3 linked regions of the Homo sapiens genome follow. The protein of the gene in region 1 interacts with the protein of each later gene in a pairwise test. Each region holds a gene or a part of one and is shown on either strand. Other genes may lie near its edges.

Region 1 (7,296 bases):
TTTTCTTTATCCAGTTTACCATTGATGGGCATTTCGATTGATTCCTTGTCTTTGCTATTGTGAACAGTGCTGTGATGAACATACGCATACATGTGTCTTTATGGTAGCATGTTTTATATTCCTTTGGGTATATATCCAATAATAAGATTGTTTTAAGTTCTTTGAAAAATTGTCGCACTGCTTTCACAATGGCTGAAACTAAATTACATTGTCACCAGCATTGTATAAGTGTTCTTTTTCCACAACCTTGCCAGAATCTATTATTTTTTGACTTTTTAATAATAGCCATTCTAACTGGTATGAGATGATATCCTGTTGTGGTTTTGATTTGCATTTCTCTAATGATGAGTGATTTTAGGTTTAGCATTTAGGCTGAGCATTTTTTCATATGCTTGTCACCTACATGTATGTCTTCTTTTGAAAAGTGTCTATTGTGTCCTTTGCCTACTTTTTTTTTTTTTTTTTTTTTTTTTTTTTTTTTGAGACAGAATCTCACTCTGTAACCCAGGCTGGAGTGCAGTGACAAGATCTTGGCTCACTGCAACCTTTGCCTCCCGGGTTCAAGCAATTCTTGAGCGTCAGCCTCCCAAGTAGCTGGCATTACAGGCGTGCACCACCACGCCTGGGTAATTTTTGTATTTTTGGTAAAGATGGGGTTTTGCCATGTTGGCCAGGCGAGTCTTGAACTCCTGACCACCTGCCTTGGCCTCCCAAAGTGTGCCACCATGCCTAGCTAATTTTTGTATTTCTAGTAGAGATGAGGTTTCGCCATGTTGGCCAGGCCCAGTTTTAGAATATTTCTATCACTCTCAAAAACGCTTTTGAGTCTGTTAACCAGTTTTGCTTGAGCCAGAAGAGCAGCAAACCACAGCAGGTTTGCCTGAACTATGCTTTAACCAGGCAATATTGAGAGCCCGGCAAAATGTGTCTGGATAACTGGCTTCGGTGGTCCACTTTTTTTTTTTTTTTTGAGATGGAGTCTTGCTCTCTTGCCCAGGCTGGAGTGCAATGGAATGATCGCGGCTCACTGCAACCTCTGCCTCCCAGGTTCAAGTGATTCTTCTGCCTCAGCCTCCCAAGCAGCTGGGATTACAGGCACCCACCATCATGCCCGGCTCATTTTTGTACTTTTGTAGAGACAGGGTGTTTCACCATGTTGCCCAGGCTGGCCTCGAACTCCCGACCTCAGGTGATCTGCCTGCAGATGTTGTCCTTTTTATTTTTATTTTTTTGAGACGGAGTCGCTCTGTTGCCCAGGCTGGAGTGCAATGGTGTGATCTCAACTCACTGCAACTTCTGCCTCCCGGGTTCAAGCGATTCTCCTGTCTCAGCCTCCTTCTGAGTAGCTGGGATTACAGGCGCCCCCCACCATGCCCGGCTAATTTTTGTATTTTTAGTAGAGGCAGGGTTTCACCATGTTGGCCAGGCTGGTCTCAAACGCCTAACCTCGTGATCCACCCACCTCGGGCTCCAGGCGTGAGCCACTGTGTCCGGCCTAGTGCTCCACTTTTTTAGGCAAGATTTCTCCTTTTCCCTTCCTTTAAATCTCTACTGGCTAACTTGTCATTCTGGATAGTTTTAGCAGCCTGCTAAGCATTTCATCCCATCTTAGAGAAATGGAATAAATTATTAATTCAAATTTGGTTAATCTAGAAAATTGTCTCAGGGAGTTACTATGACTCAAATAAGTCTACATTCAATAGGTGACAAATTATTCTGCTAGTGGAATATGGCAAAGAAAAAAATCAAGATTATAACAGGAACAAAGTTAAACTAGATATGAGTTAGAGAAAAGACTTACCTCAGAAAAAAACCCACTATATTTTGATGATGGGCTTTCTGTCTGTGAAGAACCAGAATCACTGGAGTTAACCAAATATGTTCGACTATCATGGTGTAATTTTTCAGGCAGGTGGCCTGCACAAGCCAGTTCATTTTCTTTATTTGCCATGTCACAGCCCCCACTTCCAGGGGACTGTTTTTTTCTGTAACAAGGATTTGGAAAGGGATGATGAACTTTCTTTCTGCGATAGATCACTTTACGAAGTTTATCTGGGCTTTTCACAGTTTGTCCAACTGTTCTGTAAAAAGAATTTATTTTCTTAAATGAAAAAGAACCATATGAAATCCTTTAAAAGTTTTTAAACAGAGAATTAATAGGCTATATTTGGTGATTGTAATCCACTAAAATTAGAAATAAATAGAATTTTAAAAATCTTAATTCTGAGTTGAAGAGAAAAGTAAAAGGGAAATTACAAATTATCTGGAAGACAATGTAAAGGATGACATTTTATGCCAAATAAAAATGAAGACAGACATAATAACCAGAATGCTTTTAAAAATGAAATATTAAAGGCCATTCTGGGAGTAAGAAGACCACAACATTTTCTAGAAACCTGATCTTTTTCTAACAAAGTGGCAAATAAGACTGCAAGTGTGAATATTTTAAAATTTAATTAAGCTGAAGTATATTGATTTATTTGAGTAAGAACACGATAGAGCAAGCCTCATCGTTTAATACAGTGGTTCTCAAACGTTTTAGTGTCACGATGCTTTGCTCTCTTAAAAATAATTAATGACTCAAAAATTTTTTTTTTTTTTGAGATGCAGTCTCTCTCTGTTGCCAGGCTAGTGTGCAGTGGCACAATCTCAGCTCACTGCAACCTCCACCTCCCAGGTTCAAGTGATTCTCTTGCCTCAGCCTCCTGAGTAGCTGGGACTACAGTCGCGCGCCACCATGCTGAACTAACTTTTGTATTTTTAGTAGAGACAGGGTTTCACCCTGTTGGCAAGGATGATCTTGATCTCTTGACCTCATGATCCACCCACCTTGGCCTCCTAAAGTGCTGGGAATACAGGTGTGAGCCATGGCCAAAATAATTTTTATGTGAATAGTATCTATTGATATTTACTGTGTAAAAACTAAAACAAAATTTAAATCATTTGTTAATTCATTCAAAAAAAGACTAATTACATATTAACATGGAATATCTTACCCAAAACCCATATTTTCTAAAATAATTTTTTAAAAAGTGAGAAGAATGGTACTGTTTTACATTTTTATATATCTCTAATATCTGGTTTAACAAAAGACAGCTGGGTTCTCATTTCTGCTTCTCCATTCAATCTACTGTGATATCAAATGGCATATAGCTTCTTGAAAAATTATATTGTACCCTCAAACAAGAGAATGAAAATGAAGACAGTCAATGTCTTAGTATTGCTATGGAAGTAATTCTGACTTCACAAATTCCATGAATGGTCTTTAGGGACCCGCAGGTCCTCAAATCACACTTTGAAAACCAGTCGTTTTGTAGAAAGTGCCTTTAGAAGTTAGGCAGATCTGAGAATGAATGTCATTCTTACCACTTTTCTAGCTATATGATTCTGAACAAATCATTTAACTTATCTGATCTTAAGTTTTCTCATCAACTGTTAGGGTTAATGTTATCTATAGAGTAGGCTATAGAGTAGGACTGTTGTAAGGAGCAGAGACAATATTGATGTGTTTATTAGTGCAGATACTGGCATAAAGAAGCTGTTTGACAATAAGTTAATTATTATTATGATAAAAGAATGCTTATTTTTCCCTTATTGTCATCCTTACCCAGCTTTCATATTTGTTGTTCCCCACAAACTTTAAAGAAACTCTTACCTATTTATGTAAGCAGCCAACTGTTTTGGAGATTTCTTAACCTGAAAAATGAAAGTAGATAGTTGATGTTAGAAACAAATGCTTGGTGCCGCAAAGAAGAATCAGCACTCCGGCAAAAAGCTTTCTCAGCAAGGCAATTTACTTCTGCAGAAGGGTGCCAATCGTGCCTGGAGTGGTCGCAAGAGCATACCGGGCATGGGAGGAGAAGGGGTTCTTATCCCTAATGCAGCTAGTCCCTACTACTGTGTCATTCCCCTATTGGCTAGGGTTGGACCGCACAGTCTAAACTAATTCTGATAGGCTATCTGGGTATGAGGCAGAGTGGCGGGGTGAGCAGTTTAGGCAGGAAGGATGGTTACAGTGCAGGTGACTAAGGATGACTAAGGACAGAGCAGGTGACTAAGGATGACTAAGGACTCTAAATATGTGAGTATAAAGGCTAGAAGGGGGTTGTTTACTGAAACTAGGGCAAGGAGGTGTAAAGAATGAGGAAGTTAAACTTTAAAATGGAGAACAAAGTATAAGAAAGCTGAACATACTGACATACTGGTTCCCAGAGGAACTCAGAACTCACTGTACTTAACAATATCCCCCTTTTGAATTTTACAGGTCTTCCTCTTCAAATTTCTTTAACATGTCTTGGCATAGCTGTTCTGCTTGGTTTTCTAAAAGAAAGAGCTTGTCAGAATATGGTGGAGGGGAACTGAGAGAAGTTTTAGTAAGGGCTGTTTCTGTATGTCTTTGGACTAGCCCACGGATGCGAGGTATGATGCAGCATCCAACAAGGATAAGCACTACTGCTACAATTGCAAGAGAAGTAAGGATGGTGGCTGTGATCCCTTTCCATTTACCAAACCATTTTTCTAGCCACCCTGTGAAGGGGTCATTTACTCCTGAGTTTTTTGCTAACTCATTGGACAGAGCAGTTAGACCTTGCAATGCCTTTGTTATACTTTCATCAGGGGCGGTATTGTTTGGGATGAAGGTACAACACTGAGTTTTAATCATGATGCAAACTTCCCCTTTTTCTGCTAAAATCATGTCTAAGGCCATTCTATTTTCCCAAGCCATCTGGCTAGTAAGCCCTAATTGCTCAGCTATTCCTTTAACAGCATCTCTAGTATAGTTAATAAACCGCTGTTGGTTGTAATAGGTGGAATTTATCTAATCTACGTTTTTATTAATTGTCACCCACCAAAATATTGACTCAAATCCAGCAGCTATTTGATCTCAGGTCTTAAATTTATTTGGTACTCCTCGTGGGACTCTAATTGCATCTAAATAAATGTGGGAGTCGAAAGACCCATAAGGGGCTTCCCTTGCTTTATGACATTGTGTTTTTTTCTTTCTCTGGTTGATGAAATGCCAGGGTGAAAGGGATAGCCAACTGCACTAGGGCGCAAGTGACACTCCAGTTACTAGGCAGAGTGTCCAGCAAAGGTCTACCACAATATCACCATACATCTGCTCGGGGGTGTATAAGGGCTGACTGGTTGGTGAGCTCTTGGAAAGTCTTAAGCTCACCGCATCCTTTTAGGTCTCTAAGGGATGCTAAGTTTCCTCTTTGTCGTGAGAGACACAAAATGAACTCAGTGTCGGGAGACAGAAGCTGGATGGCCCTCGGGGGCTAACCTGTGGGGTCTTGAACTTCGGGATATAGCAGAGAAAGAGCTTGGCACGACTTGTTACCCCAGGCTGTGGAATCCTGGAAAAAGAGCTACCATACAGCCCATGCCTGGTTGACTGGAGGACCATCATAGTGGAAAGGGGACAATCTGGCCCTCTGGCCTGCCATGCGCACGAGCATAACAATTGCTTTTGTTTAAAGTGCGGATGAAATATTTTATCTATTCTAACCAGGCATTGGCATTTTGATATCCCGTCTCAATTGCTAAAGTTTCTTTTAGGACTTTGACTTCTACAATAGCTACCTTCGTCTTGTCATTAGATGGAGGAAGAACAACAGTTTTGTTGTGGGAGGTTCTGGAAGAAGGCTTAGGGGAAGGTGTAGGCGGTGGGGGAGCAATGAAGAATATTTCAAAGGATCTGATAGGGTCTGCTCCTGAAACCTCAGCCCCCATATTATAAAACTGGCTTAAAGAAGGAAATTGGCTTAGAGAAGGGGAAGAACTTAGAGGGTTTGAGATAATAGCCTGTACTGGATTGTACTGATTTAGCTGACAGTTAGGGGAAGCTGTTCCTTTAGTAAAATGAATGTATAGCTTTAGGAAATTACAACTACTGCTTGGGGCAATCTATTCTTGCTCTTTAGTGGTCCACAGAATGTTGGACCAACTACAGCATAAAAGCTTTGTATTGGGAAGGCAAGACTCTCAGTTTATACTGGAATCTCCGTCAAACTCTTCCCAAGCTAACTTATCCCAGTTAACAGAATTCCAGTCTGAGAAGAGCTAGGAAGGACAAAGATACTTTTCTGAAGTGGAGAGTTGCCTCTGGCTTGGCACATCTCCACAGGGCATCACAAGGCAAGCATCAAAGGTAATAGTTTGGGGTGAACTCGACCTAGTTACATTAATAACAAGAGGACTAGCAATAGATGGGGAAAAGAAGAGATGCAACATAAGAGGATCAAACCCGTTTTAGCTTTAGCTTGGTTAGAGTAAGCCCTAGAATAGCTGCCCATGATTCTGGAGGAGGTGGTGCTCTTTTGACCTGGGTGTGATGAGTCCATCCCATTTCTGCTGTTTGAACTGTGGTCTCAATGGTTAGAAGCACTAGGCAGGGTCCTTCCTAAGCTGGTTCAAGTTTTCCTTCCCTCCAACTTTTGACAAGGATGTGGTCCCTAGGCTGATGTTGGTGTACTGGAAACTCTAGGGGTGGTGCCTGTGCTAAAAGACCTTTAGTTCTGAGGCAAGAGAAAGTGGAAGATAAACTTAAGTATATAATTTCTGAGAAACTGATCTTTTGTTTCGAACATGGGAATGTCAGCAGCGGAGTGCAAATAGAGCAACTTACACAACATTTCATAAGGGGATAAGCCAACATCTCTCTGAGGAGCAGTTCGGATTCTCAACAGGGCAATGGGAAGGCATCTAGTCCATGGCAACCGAGTCTCTAAGACTAATTTGCTTAAGTGGCTTTTTAGAGTTTGGTTCATTTTTTTCCCCACTCTTCCTGATGAAGGTGGGTGCCAGGGAGTATGATTTCCCATGTTATATCCAGTACCTGGGCTAATTTCTTAATGACATGTGCAATGAAATGAGTTCCATTATCTGAATCAATGTTTCCTATTAATCCAAACCTGGGTATAATATTTTCAACTAATGTTTTGACTACATTATTAGCAGTTGCACTTGAAAGGAAATAGCTTCTACCCAATGAGTAAGGTGATCTACTATTACTAATAAATATTTTAGACAACCAATTTGGGGCATCTTGGCGTAATCAACTTGGATACTTTGGAACAGTCTTAATTCCAGATACCTTCCCCTAAGAGGTGGTTTTCTGAGGGTCTGCTTATTAGTCATCCTAAATACTAGGCAACTATCTGTAACCTGTCATGTCAAAGTGTAAATTGCTACACATCCATAAACCCAAAGGACTGCATCACACATAGCTTGAGGTCCCCAATGAGTCTCTTGATGCAGATGAGAGAGGTCTCTCATAAGGGAATTGGATAA
Region 2 (7,565 bases), on another chromosome or scaffold:
CAACGCCCAGCACCCCCACAGCCTCCCTGCTGCCACTGGGGGGCGCCATCGTCGCGGCTAACGCAACCCGAGGGCGGAAGCGGTGGAGCGCCGCGCCGCGGGGTTTTCTGGGAGATGTAGGCGGTGGAAGCACACTCATGCGCAGCAACGGCGCCGCAGTGGGCGCTCATGCGCAATGGAGGGTCCGGCGTCCGCCTTGGCGGGTGGGAGTGATGACCTGCACTCCCCAAACCACTGCGGGATAGAACGGGGCCGAGTGCTCTCAGGGGTGGCCGCTACCGGGGCGGCCCGAGACACGGCTGCGGGTTCCAGCCAACAGGCCCGGAGTCGCGGCCTCGGCTCCGCCGTGGGTGCACGGGCTAGGGCTGCGGGGACTCCTGTGGGCTCCGCGTCTGCGGCTGGGAGGAATGGGGATCGTCCCCAGATCCCGCCTTCCGGGCAGGGCCTCCGCTGCCTGCGATCCTGCCCACAGTCCAAGGATCCTCCTCGCCTCTCGCGGACTGCGGTGTCAGCCGCCCGAGCCGTTCCCCGGACACCTGGCCAGGTGACGGCCCCCGACCTCCGCCTGGGGCGGGGGGGGGGGTGGTCTGCGAGTCCCCCTCACCCCCAGCAGACGTTCCCGAGCTCAGAAGGAAAAAAAGGACGAGGAAGGGGCTGCTTATGAGTGTGTCGGTGTTGATTTAGTAGTTGTGGAATGTGAGCCCTGGGGAAATAAGTGGAAGAGGCATGGACCGTGTGGCTCCACTGGGGCGTTCGCGAATGCCTCCTGGAGGAGGAGACCAACCAGAAAGAAGAGGCAGCGTCCAGCAACTGGACAAAGGCCAGAGGGCCTTTCTGGCAAGAGGACTGGGGTGAGCAGAAGCTGATCCGGCTCTTTATCCCTGGGCGCAAGTGCTGTGTGGCATAGGTCAGTGAAGGCCTGAAAGGGATGTTGAGCCAGCAGCAAAAGGCCTTGAGTGCCCCATTAAATAAGTTACAGCTGTGGCTGACGCCTGTAATCCCGGCACTTTGGGTGGCCCAAGCGGGCGGATTGCCTGAGCTCAGGGGTTGTAGACCAGCCTGGCCAACATGGTGAAACCCCGTCTCTACTAAAAATACAAAAATTAGCCGCGCGTGGTGGCACGTGCCTGTAATCCCTGCTACTTGGGAGGCTGAAACAGGAGAATCGCTTGAACCGGGGATGCAGAGTTTGGAGGCTGCAGTGAGCTGAGATCACGCCACTGCACCCCAGCCTGGGCGATAGAGCAAGACTGTCTCAAAAAAAAAAAAAAATCACATATGTTGGCCAGGCAGGGTGGATCACGCCTGTAACGCCAGCACTTTGGGAGGCTGAGGATTACTTGAGCCCTGGAGTTTGAGAGCAGCCTGGGTAAAATAGTGAGACCCCATCTGTACTAAAAAAATTAGCCAGGCATGGTGGTGTACACCTGTAGTCCCAGCAACTGGGGAGGTCGAGATGGGAGGATTGCTTGAGCCCAGGAGGTCAAGGCTGCAGTGGGCTATGATCATGCCACTGGACTACATCCTGGACAGCAAAGCAAGACCCCATTTCTAAGAGAAAAAAAAAGTGCCATTTTGTAAATGACTTCTGGGATGCTTATCTTGATGTAGAAAGTCTCCTACCCCAAGAACAAACAGATAATTCCTGAACAGGGATTGGCAAACAATGGCCTCAGTGGGCCTTCTGTTTCTGTAAAGTTTTATTGGAATGCAGTCACACTTGTTTGTTTAGTATTATCTATGCTGCTATCTGGAAGAGTTGGGTAGTCATGGCAGAGACCTTATGGTCTGCAAAGCTGAAAATATTTATTATTGGGCTTTTCACAGAAAAAGATTGCCTACATGTGACCTACAAGAATATACACTTGTGGCCAGGCGCAGTGGCTCACGCCTGTCATCCCAGCACTTTGGGAGGCTGAGGTGGGTGGATCACCTGAGGTCAGGAGTTTGAGACCAGCCTGGCCAACAAGGTGAAACCCTGTCTCTACTAAAAATACAAAAATTAGCCGGGTGTGGTGGTGTGCGCATGTAATCCCAGCTACTCTGGAGGCTGAGGCAGGAGATTCACTTGAACCTGGAAGGTGGAGGTTGCAGTGAGCTGAGATCTTGTCACTGCACTCCAGCCTGGGGGACAGAGTGAGACTCAGTCTCAAAAAATACAAAAAAGAATATACACTTGTGCCAGCACAGTACTTAGCACTAAGGATTTCTCTTTGCCACTGAATGGAAAAAACACCCTTGTTATTATTAATGATGTTATGCTTTATTGTTAACTTTATTACTAGATTATTACTTTTACTCATCTCTTCTTGCATACTCTTCTATTCTTCTGATATTTGTGTCTGTATTAGTGCCTATTTGAGCCCATCTGCTTAATATGGTACATTTTAGTATCTAATAAAGGGTGCCTGACTTTTTTTTTTGAGACGAGAGTATAGCTGTCACCCAGGCTGGAGTGCAGTGGCACGATCTCAGCTCACTGCAACCTCCGCCTCCAGGATTCAGGCAATTCTCCTGCCTCAGCCTCCGGAGTAGCTAGGATTATAGGCACCCGCCACCACCCCCGGCTAATTTTTGTATTTTTAGTAGAGACAGGTTTCACAATGTTTGCCAGGCTGGTCTTGAATTCCTGACCTCAAGTGATCCACCTGCCTCGGCCTCCCAAAGTGCTGGGATTACAGTTGTGAGCCACCGCGTCCGGTCTCCGACTGTTCTTTTAACCAGATACTGTTGGACTTTTCTCCATATGATCTTTAAGTTGTTTTATTCTGTGAGCTGGGGGCGGGGGGAGTCTTTGAATTGGAATTGCTATACTTTTGTTTAGTAGTTTTGTGAAGATTTTTTTTTTTTTTTTGAGACCGAGTACTAGGATTGCAGGCATGAGCCACTGTGCCCAGCCAATTTTTATATTTTTAGAGATGGGGTTTCACCATGTTGGCCAGGCTCATCTTGAACTCCTGACCTCAGGTGATCCCCCCAGCCCGGCTTCCCAAAGAGTTGGAATTACAGGCATGAGCCACTGTGCCTGGTCTGATACGGCCTTCATGGAGAAATTAAAAAAATACTTTCCATTCAGGAATAATATGTCAGTGTGTTCTGAACTTAACTTCAGGTCTGTTAATGAGGTTTTTGTATTTTCTTCATGAAGATCCTTTATTGCTTTTGCTAATTGATTTCCAAGTTGCTCCAACCATCACTATTGTGAGTGACAATTTAATCACTATTATGGCTTAGAATTTTTTTTCTAATTTTCATTTCAAAATTGTGAAGTATTTCAACCTGCGGAGAGGTTCGGAGAGTAATAGAATAATCTATAAATAATAAAGATGACACCCATGTATCATCGAGATTTTACCTGTGTTAACATGTAGTCAGATTTTCAGGTTTTGATTTGTTTTTTCCTATCAAGCATCACAGGTGTAACTGAGGTCTCCTTTGTCTCCTCCCCAACTCTTTCCCCTCAGTTGCCACTTTCTTGAGGTTGGACAATCTATCTGGTCCATGTTATTGTTACTTTACTACTTATGTATCAATCTCTGTATAACATATAGATTTTGTGTCTTTTATTTCCAGGTAAGTTGTATCATGTGGATAAGTGCACAGTTTACTTTTCGAACTGTTTTTGGAGAACTGTCTATCTTGTATATAAGTTAGTCCTTTTTTTTTTTTTTTTTTTTGAGACGAAGTCTCCCTCTTGTCCCCCAGGCTGGAGTGTGATGGTACGATCTCAGCTCACTGCAACCTCCGCCTCCCAGGTTCAAGTGATTCTCTTGCCTCAGCCTCCCGAGGAGCTGGGATTACAGGCGCCTGCCACCACGCCTAGCTAATTTTTGTATTTTTAGTGGAGACGGGGTTTCACCATGTTGGCCAGGCTGGTCTCAAACTCCTGACCTTAGGTGAGCCCAGTCCGTTTGTTTTAACCACCCCCTATTGCTCCGTTGCACATACCACAGTTTCTCTCTTCCCTGTCAGTAAATATTTAGGCTTCCCCATGCTAAAGTTTAAGAGAACCACTGAAAGAATGAAAATGTGTAGTTTTCATTTTCAACCGGCTATTGTTACTACAGAGGAAAGTTACTGGCTTTGTTTACATTTCTTAGATCTAGTCATTTTAACAAATTAGGCCTCCCAAAATGCTGGGATTACAGGCGTGAGCCACGCACCCAGTAAATAATTATATTGCCAATGAATAATGAGTGTACTTATTCTGAATTTTAACATTATTATCTCAAAAAAAGATTATAGATAAAGAAATATTTTAGGAAATTATGCAGTAAATAAAAGGAAGGCTCTATAACAAAAGAATGATAGCATCGGGTTAAAAATCAGAGGAGACCATAGGAGAAAGTAAATGCCTGCGCGTCCGCCCCGAGGCAAGTCCACGCCAGGGTAATGAATAACCCGGTACCCGCGGCCGCCCCAGCGTTGGGCGGGGGAAGCTCGGGGACTCCGCGCACGCGCACATCCTTGTCCCGGCAGCCGCGCAAGCGCAATCGCCCGGAACATGGCTGCCGCCGGCCGCCAACCGTAAGTGCCGACGCATCCCTGAGCCCTGCGCTGCCTCCGTTTCCTGCGGAGGGAAGTCTTGGCGGGTGGAGGTCCGCCGGGTCCTTGTGGGGCGGCGAGGGGCGCGTCCGCGGGTGGGTTTCACCTGGGTGGTGGGCATGTCGGGCCCGCTAGGGCGAGGGTCTGGCCAGGGGCGTAGTTCTCCTGGTGGGTGGGGACGCTCCGTGGCGATTGGGGTCACTCCTCTGAGGACGAGGTCGCTCCGGGGCTGGTCTGGACGCCCCCGCTCTTTCCTTAGCGTCACCCGTGAGTTCCGCGCTCGCATCTCTAGCCCGCCCTCCCATAGAGACTGTTTTGCCACGCCTGCTGGGTGTCCTGGTCCGTCTCCGGGGGTAACCCCCGAGTCTGCAGCTTTTCTGTCAGGTGTGAGGGGCAGTGTAGGCTTGGGTCGGCCTCCGGCTGAATTGGCGGCCGTGAGCCAGTGGGCTGAGCCGCTTCCCCTTGAGTCTCGAAGGTGTTAGATCACCTGTGTGTTTTTCCATTTGATATTTGCAAAATCATGTTTTACTGCAATTCTCAGTGAGGGCCGCATTTTTGCACGTGTTTAGTGACCATTTTGCTGTCTTTTCCCTTGGTTTAGTGGCATATTTCCTTTGTGCAGTCTTCCAGTCTCAATATTTTATGACATAAAATGTTGGTTTAGATAGAGAAGCTGAAAGACTTGTGCAGTGAACGACCCGGTTAACGTCTGCTGAACTTACTGTATCCCTTATCTTTCCTTCTGTCCATCCTTTCAGCCATTCATTAATCCACCTATTTTTGGAAACATTTCAAAGTAAGTTGCAGATATCACAACACTTCTCCCTCAAACACCTCACTATGCTTACCATGAATTAGAGTTCAGTAGTGCTTTTTTAAATTTTTTGAGCCAAAATTGACTTTCAGTGAAATGCACAGATATTCCCTGTACCATTGATGAATTTTGACAAATGCAACCTAAACCTTTATTAAAATTACCATCAGCCTGAAAAGGTCCTTTATTTTTTGCCAAGTTAAAAAATTTGGCTATAGGAACTTGGGCTTGTTGAAGTACGTTTTGAATACCCAGTTTTTGTCTGTTTTTTCTTTTTTCCCACAGCAAGTGACTTTCCTCCATTCTACTGCTTGTTTACCTCTCTCTTCACCCAACTTTTCATTTTGAAAAGTTCCGCATTTGCATAGAAGTTGCAGGAATAGTTTAACACTTCTAAAACCATCCAGATTCTAAAATTATTAACACTTTTTGCCACATTAGCTTTATCTTTATCTTCTCCCTGCCTGAGACACATGCATAGGTGTTACCAGAAAGGGGGTCCCGAGCTATAACCCAACAGAGGGTTCTTATATCTTGGGAAAGAAAATTCAGGGCGAGTCCATAGAGTAAAGTGAAAGCAAGCTTATTAAGAAAGTAAAGGAATAAAAAAATGGCTACTCCATAGATAGAGCAGCCCCAAGAACTGCTGGTCGCCCATTTTTATGGTTATTTCTTGATTATATGCTAAACAAGGGGTGGATTATTCATGCCTACCATTTTTAGGCCATATAGGGTAACTTCCTGATGTTTCCATGACATTTGTAAACTGTCATGGTGCTAGTGGGAGCAGGACCAGAGGTCACTCTCGTTGCCATCTTGGTTTTGGTGGGTTTTAGCCACCTTTACTGCAAGCTGTTTTATCAACAAGGTCTTTATGACCTGTATCTTGTGCAAATCTCCTGTGTTATCCTATGACCTAGAATGCCTTAACTGTCTGGAAATGCAGCCCAGTAGGTTTCAGCCTTATTTTACCCAGTCCCCATTTAAGATGGAGGTTTGCTTTGGTTCAAACGCCTCTGACATAGGGTTTTCTTTTTATATTTTACACACACTTGTACACACAGCAGGTGTTGCAGAGGCAGGTGTGATACAGACATATATTTACATACACTTAGTTTTTTTGGCTGAGTTACTGGAAGTATGTTATAGATATCATACCTCACTCTGAAATACTTCAGCCAGGATCTCATAAGAAAAGTAACGTTCTTATTTTTTAATTTTGTATTTTTTATAGAGATGAGATCTCACTATGTTGCCCAGACTGTTCTTGAACTCCTGGTCTTAAGCAGTCCTCCTGCCTTGGCCTCCCAAAGTGGTGGGATTACAGGTGTGAGCCACCACACCCAGCCAAAAAGAACATTTGAACATTTAAACAAAACTAGTGTTATTATCACACCCAAGTATACTTTTTTTTTTTCAAAAAACTAATTGTTTTTTATTTGTAATTTTTTTTTCCTGCCAATCTGAACCTGGAAAAGAAGAAACAGGGAAATTTTTTACCTTCCTCTCTTTTTTTTTTTTTTTTTTTAATTGATCATTCTTGGGTGTTTCTCGCAGAGGGGGATTTGGCAGGGTCATAGGACAATAGTGGAGGGGAGGTCAGCAGATAAATAAGTGAACAAAGGTCTCTGGTTTTCCTAGGCAGAGGACCCTGCGGCCTTCCGCGCAGTGTTTGTGTCCCTGGGTACTTGAGATTAGGGAGTGGTGATGACTCTTAAGGAGCATGCTGCCTTCAAGCATCTGTTTAACAAAGCACATCTTGCACCGCCCTTAATCCATTTAACCCTGAGTGGACACAGCACATGTTTCAGAGAGCACAGGGTTGGGGGTAAGGTCACAGATCAACAGGATCCCAAGGCAGAAGAATTTTTCTTAGTACAGAACAAAATGAAAAGTCTCCCATGTCTACTTTCTGCACAGACACGGCAACCATCCGATTTCTCAATCTTTTCCCCACCTTTCCCCCCTTTCTATTCCACAAAACCGCCATTGTCATCATGGCCCGTTCTCATTGAGCTGTTGGGTACACCTCCCAGACGGGGTGGTGGCTGGGCATAGGGGCTCCTCACTTCCCAGTAGGGGCGGCTGGGCAGAGGCGCCCCTCACCTCCCGGACGGGGCGGCTGGCCGGGTGGGGGGGCTGACCCCCCCCACCTCCCTCCCGGACGGGGCGGCTGGCCGGGCAGAGGGTCTCCTCACTTCCCAGT
Region 3 (7,296 bases), on another chromosome or scaffold:
CCTGGTTCCTAAACTCAGCTTGATAGGTAAGGAATTTTAACCCCTGGAACTGTGACTTGCCTTAATTGTGGATTCTTCTTGATTGTCAAGTGTATGAAATGTGATTGTATTTACCAAGTATTTGCTATGTGCCAGACATCGTGGTGTATAACAATGAAAAAATCATGGTCTCTGCCATGGGGCTTTAGTATAGGAGACATACATTAATCGGAAAATCACATCGATATATCATTAAACGGTGATAAGTACTATGAAGGAAATATTCCTATGAAGGAACTGTCATAGTATTATGAGACATGCATTAATCAGAAAATCACATCAGTATATAATTAAACTGTAATAAGTGCCATGAAGGAAAAGTATGAGGTGTTATGAAAATATATAATGGAGACTTTGGGAGACTGAGGCAGGCGAATTGCATGAGGCCAGGAGTTCGAGACCAGCCTGGGCAACATGTTGAAACCCCATCTCTACTAAAATTATAAAAATTAGCCAGGTAGCCGGGCATGGTGGTTCACGCCTGTAATCCCAGCACTTTGGGAGGCCAAGGTGGGCGGATCACGAGGTCAGGAGATCGAGACCATCCTGGCTAATACCGGGAAACCCCGTCTATACTAAAAATACAAAAAATTAGCTGGGTGTGGTGGCGGGCATCTGTAGTCCCAGCTACTTGGGAGGCTGAGGCAGGAAAATAGCATGAACCCGGGAAGCGGAGGTTGCAGTGAGCCGAGATCGTGCCACTGCACTCCAGCCTGGGCAACAGAGCCAGACTCCGTCTCAAAAAAAAAAAAAAAAAAAAATAGCCAGGTATGGTGGCATACGCCTGTAATCCCAGCTACTCGGGAGGCTGGGGCAGGAGAATTGCTTGAACCCAGGAGACAGCGATTGCAGTGAGCCAAGATTGCACCACTGTACTCCAGCCTGGGTGACAGAGTGAGACTCTGTCTCGGGAAAAAAAAAAGAAAAGAAAATATATAACGAGAGACGGGATTCATCTGGGAGTTTAGGCCTCATGTTTCTTTGAGAAGGTGGCATTTGAGCTAAGATTTGAAGTAGAAGCTAACAGTGAGGTAACAGGAAAAGCATTTTTGGCAGAGGGAATAGTATGTAGTAAAAAAATAGCATTTGAGGAAATGAAAGAATGTCAGTATAGCTAAAGCATTGTAAGCAAAGCAAGAGAGGCATGAGGTAAGGTTAGAGACATAGCTAGGCAGGGGTCTGATCTCAGAAGCTAATCAGGATCAACCTGCTTAGTACTTGGATGGGAGACAGGCAGGGGCTGAATCAAGTAAGACCTTATAGAGCATCTGTTCTTTATGCTAAGAGCAAAGGAAGACCACTGAAGGATTTTTAAGGAAATGACATGATCTAATTTGCACTTTCAAAAGATTTTTTGTCTACAGAAAGGATGGGAGAATGGGGCAAAGGTAAATGTTGACAGACTGGTGGAAAATGAAAGAGAGAGGGTGAAGGAAACAAGTACTAAGAGTGACATCTGTGTGTCTGACTTGCACATGTGGGAGGATGATATCACTGGCCATGAAAGAGAGCATTGGAGGAGAAAGACTATAAGACTCTTTTTGAACATGTTGAGTTTCAGATTATTTCATCAGTTACTTGAGTTTCTTATAGCTCTTCAGCCCCCTAAGCAACTCTGATCTAGAGGCAGCTACAGATGTCTTTGGAATGAAAGACACCTGCTCTCATGTTTGGTCATTTCCTGTCATCATATGAGATATAGTCTAAGTGTTTAATTGTTTGTTTGGCAGGGAAAGGTAAAAGGAGGAGATCATCTGATGAAGATGCTGCTGGGGAGCCCAAGGCCAAGAGACCAAAATATACTACAGATAACAAGGAGGTAATGGGGCTTCTTGATTAGAAGTCCTCACCCTGAAGCAGGCCAGAAAGAGCACTCAGATAACAAGCCCCAAGAGAGCTTAAAGCTTCCTGAGCTAAGAAGCAGTAGGATTATGAACCTCATTAAATATTAGGAATAGACTAACAAAGAATGAACCATTACTGTCTCCCTTCTGAGCCTTAACTTAATTCTTTCATTGAACAGAGGTAACAGCTTATGTAAAAAGGGGCCTAGAAAAAGTTTAGGTTGCTCAATATGGCGAGAACCTAAAGACCTACAGGGGCCAGTGATGAAAAATGGGTCTAAAAACTATACATAGGCCTGAACTCATATTCAAATGCCTTCTTAGCGTACCTATAAAGATGTCAGTAAGCATCTCAAATTTAGTGTGGCCAAAACAGAATAATTGATTCCTCCTCCCAAATATCTTGCTCCCTCATAAACTTCCTCATCTTAGTAAAAGACACTACCACGTAGGCCAGCCGCCTAGGACACCACCATTTCTGCTTAAGCCAAAATCCTTGGAACCCTCTAATCTCACAGTAAAACATATCAGCCCAGTTTCCAAAATTACCTCAAATCCAACCATTTCTCATCTTTTCACTGCCATCTCTCAACTCTTTGCAAACGCTTTCGTTAATGGTCTCCCTAGCTGCATTCTTACCTACTTAGTAGCCAAAATGACTTTCTAAGTTGTTCAAAACAAAACAACACATCCACTGATTAGACTCCTTTAATAGCTTTCCTTTACTTTTAGAAGAAATCCAAGGTACGGGCTAGGAAGCCTTACGTGATCTAGGTCTTCGTATGATCTGCTGGAGACAGGGCTCTTCAACCTCACCTCTGCCCCGTCTCCATCTTACTCACTGTGTTCCCTCTACTGACTTTATCTCTTAAACATGTCAAACTCTTTCTGGTCTTTAGACTTTGGCTCCGGCTTCAAATGTTTGTCCCCAGATCTTCATGTAGTGGTCTCTGTTTTTATCATTTCTATCTTAAATGCTGTTTTCATAGACTTCAAGCACCATTGCCCACTCCTACACTAGTTCCTACCACATTTCTCATTTCATATACTTCACAGCATTTATATTTATAACTGGAATTATTTATTATTTGTGTACATGTTTGTCTAAGAGGTTTGGGCTTTATCCTGAAGGCAAAGGAGAGCCATTGATGGATTTTAAGCAGGGAAATGAAGTGACTGGATTTATATTTTAGAAAGATTATTATAGCACAGCAGTTCCTAACTTGTTCTACTCCATGGATGGATTTCAGAGAGTCCAGTTATACTTACGTGCATTTTTCAGTGAAGCTCTCCGTACCTTTCATTACATTCTTCAAAGGAACTGTGACCCAAAACAGTTTAAAAAAAAAAAAAGCACTACTCTAAGAAATGGGAAGAATGATGCAAAACAAAATTAGAAGGAGAAAACCCAGTTACTCCTTTTATAGTGTCTGCTATGTTTTAAAGGGAAAAAAAAAAACCCAGTTAGGAGGCTATTGTAGTAATCCAGATGGGCCAAGATTTAGAGTCTGAAATAAGGTAATGATAGGAGAAAGAAAAGTAGACATCTGATAAATATAAAGAATAGATAGAACTTGGTAATGGGGTGGTAGATTATGGAGAGCAAGGGACTAGGGGTGATACCCAAGTTTGTAGCTTAAGAAATCGGGTTGGCTGGCCAAGCACAGTGGCTCACACCTGTAATCCCAGCACTTTGGGAGGCCGAGGTAGGTGGATCACCTGAGGTCAGAGTTCGAGATGAGCCTGGTCAACATGGTGAAACCCCGTCTCTACTAAAAATACAAAAATTAACCGGCCATGGTGGTAGGTGCCTGTAATTACAGCTACTTGGGAGGCTGCGGCAGGATAATGGCCTGAACCTGGGAGGCAGGGGTTGCAGTGAGCTGAGATCACGCCACTGCACTCCATCCTTGGTGACAGAGCAAGACTCCATCTCAAAAAAAAAAAAGAAATTGGGTTGTCTAGGCACAGTGGCTCGTGCCTGTAATCCCAGCATTTTGGGAGGCTGACGTAGAAGAATCACTTGAGCCCAGGAGTTTGAGACCAGCCTGGACAACATAGTGAGACCCCATCTGTACCAAAAAAAAAAACACCAGACCTGGTGGCACATGTTTGTAGTCCCAGCTACTCAGGGGCTGAGGTGGGAGGATCACTTGAGCCCAGGAAGTCAAGGCTTCAGTGAGCCATGATGGTGCCACTGCACTACAGCCTGGGCAACAGAGCAAGACCCTGTCTCAAAAAAAAAAAAAAATTGGGTTGGTTATAGTGTAGTTACCTGAAAACTTACAAAACAGAACAGTTTGGGGAACAAATGGAAGTGTCAAATAGGCAGCTGAGTCTATGCATCTGGAGCATAATAGAGAGTTCCAGGATAGGCCGGGTGCGGTAATGCCTGTAATCCTAGCACTTTGGGAGGCAGAGGCAGGTGGATCACCTGAGGTCAGGAGTTCGAGACCAGCCTGGCCAAGATGGCGAAACCCCGTCTCTACTAAAAATACAAAAATTAGCCATGCATGGTGGCGCAGGCCTGTAATCCCAGCTACTTGGGAAGCTGAGGCAGGAGAATCGCTTGAACCTGGGGGGCAGAGGTTGCAGTGAGCGGAGATTGTGCCACTTCACTCCAGCCTGGGCGAAAGAGCAAAACTCCATCTCAAAAAAAAAAAAAAAAAGAGAGAGTTCTAGGATAGAGTAACAGATTTGGAAATGCATCAATAGTTGAAGCCTGGAGAGCAGATAAAATTACCCAAGTAGAGCATGTAGAGTAAAAAGAAAGGAAAGGTATGGACAGAACCCTGACAAAACACCAGGATTACAGTTGGGATCTGAAAGAGGAATCTGTGGATACTGAGGAAAGGTAGCCAGAAAGGTTCAAAGTAACGCCAAGAAAAAATGGTGTCGGCCAGGCCCAGTGGCTCACACTTGTAATCCTAACACTTTGGAAGGCCAAGGCGGGCAGATCGCTTGAGCCTAGGAATTTGAGACCATCCTGAGCAACATGGTGAGACCGTCTCTACAGAAAAATACAAAAATTACCCAAGCGTGGTGGCACGCACCTGTGGTCCCAGCTGCTTGGGAGGCTGAGATGAGAGGATCACCTGAGCCCAGGGAGGTCAAGGCTGCAGTGAGCTACAATCACACCACTGCACTCCAGCCTGGGTGACAAAGACCCTGTCTTTAAAAGGAAAAAAAAAATGGTGTCATAAAACCAAGGAGCCACATAAAGTTTTAAGAAGGAAAAAATGTCCAACCATGTCATATGCTTCCAAAAGGTTAAATAAGATCAGAAGTGGAAATTATTATTTGAACTTAACAACATAGAATCCTTAAGGACAGTTGTGGAATTTCACTGGAATGCGAGTGACAATTGACATTTCAGTACAATAGTGGAAATGGGTTGCGTAAATCTAGGTAGAGATACAACTGAGATGGCCAACTGTTTGAGAAGCTTGGCTGTGACACTAAGGAAAAGAAGAGAAGGCATAGGGTTGAAAGAGAATTCTAGAGTAGAAAGAGACTTGGACAGGGTAAAGGCTGATAAGAAGGCGGTAGAGAAGGAAAGCCTGAAGATGTTAGAGGACAGGGTAAAATAGAGCTGGATCCCCAAGAATGAATGAGAGAGTAAGATTTGGAATACCAATATGGGCATTAACCTTAGGTAAAAGGAGCATTTTTCAGCTGTGATAAAAGTGAGTGAAAATATGAATCAAGAACAAAAAAGAAATGTGGTGAGGATGTGCACAGAGCTGAGTGAGTTCTGGCCTAGTGTCTTCTATTTTCTCTGTGAAATGAGAGGCAAAGTCATCTGCCGAGAGTGAGAAGGAAGAAGGGTCAAGTTGGAGACTTGAAAGTAATGGAGAAGAGTTAAAATAGAGAGAGAAAGGCCGGATGTGGTGGCTCACACCTATAATCCCAGCACTTGGAGTCCGAGGCAGGCAGATCACCTGAGGTCAGGAGTTCGAGACCAGCCTGGCCAACATTGTAAAACCCCAACTCTACTAAAAATACAAAAATTAGCCTAGCGCAGTGGTGGTTGCCTGTAATCCCAACTACTCAGTAGGCTGAGACAGGAGAATCACTTGAACCCGAGAGGCAGAGGTTGCAGTGAGCCGAGATCATGCCACTGCACTCCAGCCTGGGTGACGAGCAAAACTCCGTCTCAGAAAAAAATTAAAATAAATGTTAAATAATAAAATAGGGAGAGAAAGATTGGAGATGAGCTTAGAAAACCTGTTTGAAGTCGGAATTTGTCTAGACACCAGTCTACATGACTGAATGATTTTTTTCCAACCAATGTAATTGTTACTGTGTAGGAAAAGAAATGGTGAACCATTAAATCCAAGCTCCTCACCAGAAAACTTTACACTATAGCTAAATGTTTCTCTAAATCTTTTCCTCAGCCCATTCCAGATGATGGGATTTATTGGCAGGCCAACCTTGACAGATTCCACCAACACTTCCGTGACCAAGCCATTGTGAGCGCAGTTGCTAACAGGATGGACCAGGTAATACCTAAGTGGGTCTGTCATTGGTCATCAGGGACATTTACTTATTTGTCAGATATGGCCATTGGCACATAGAGCCAGGGGCAGCACTGTGATTTCTGAATTCTAGTTTACTTTTCAAACAGACAAGCAGCGAGATTGTGCGAACCATGCTCCGAATGAGTGAGATTACCACTTCCTCTAGTGCTCCCTTCACCCAGCCATTGTCTTCCAATGAGGTGAGTTTCATGTTCTTGCACTAACTTTCTGACAGATTCTTGGGTGTTATCAACGTTTATTATACACAGATCCTGAGTTTGGGTTGAGGTCTGAGCCTTGAAAGAGAAGGGCATTTGATGTGGAGCAGGGATTATCTTCAAGTGATGAGCACTGAAATGTTTGGTCTCTTAGGATCCAGCTTTTAAAAATCTACACTATTCACTTAGTCAAAGTATCTATTCGTCAAGTACAGCCTATTCCTAATTATTTTAAGAATCCACAATTTGGACTCTGAGAGCCTTGGCATTCAGGACATTATTTGACCCCCTGTACTTAAAATATCGATATTTAATATATCCAATATGTGTTATTTATATTACTTTCATAGTAATACAGTCATGCATCACTTAACAGCAGGGATACATTCTGAGAAATGTGTCGTTAGGTGATTTCATCATTGTGTGAACATCATAGGGTGTACTTAACACAAACCTAGATGGTGTAGCCCTACAGCACACCTAGACTGAACGGGATAGCCTATGGCTTCTAGGCTGTAAACCTGTACAGCATGTTACTGTACTGAATACTGTAGGCAGTTGTAACGCAGTAGCATCTGTGTATCTAAACATCTAATCACAGAAAAGGTACAGTAAAAATATGGTATGAAAAATTAAAAACCACACCTGTTTAGTGCACTTAACATGAATGGAGCT

What was found. Proteins that work in one complex are often made in the same cells at the same time.
Region 2: the proteins of KATNBL1 (region 1) and ZNF329 interact in binary tests that used the Homo sapiens proteins (3 or more experiments, as listed by UniProt).
Region 3: the proteins of KATNBL1 (region 1) and POLR3C interact in binary tests that used the Homo sapiens proteins (3 or more experiments, as listed by UniProt).

The regions. Positions count from the first base shown.
Region 1 is NC_000015.10:34,150,989-34,158,284, forward strand, and holds part of KATNBL1 (KATNB1-like protein 1), read right to left. Parts: intron 3,697-7,296; coding exon 3,656-3,696; intron 2,082-3,655; coding exon 1,802-2,081; intron 1-1,801.
Region 2 is NC_000019.10:58,147,714-58,155,278, reverse strand, and holds the start of ZNF329 (zinc finger protein 329), read left to right. Parts: upstream 1-4,489; 5' UTR 4,490-4,527; intron 4,528-7,565. UniProt on the Homo sapiens protein: May be involved in transcriptional regulation.
Region 3 is NC_000001.11:145,826,980-145,834,275, forward strand, and holds part of POLR3C (DNA-directed RNA polymerase III subunit RPC3), read left to right. Parts: coding exon 1-26; intron 27-1,769; coding exon 1,770-1,858; intron 1,859-6,280; coding exon 6,281-6,385; intron 6,386-6,494; exon of another isoform or gene 6,495-6,510; coding exon 6,511-6,603; intron 6,604-7,296. UniProt on the Homo sapiens protein: DNA-dependent RNA polymerase catalyzes the transcription of DNA into RNA using the four ribonucleoside triphosphates as substrates.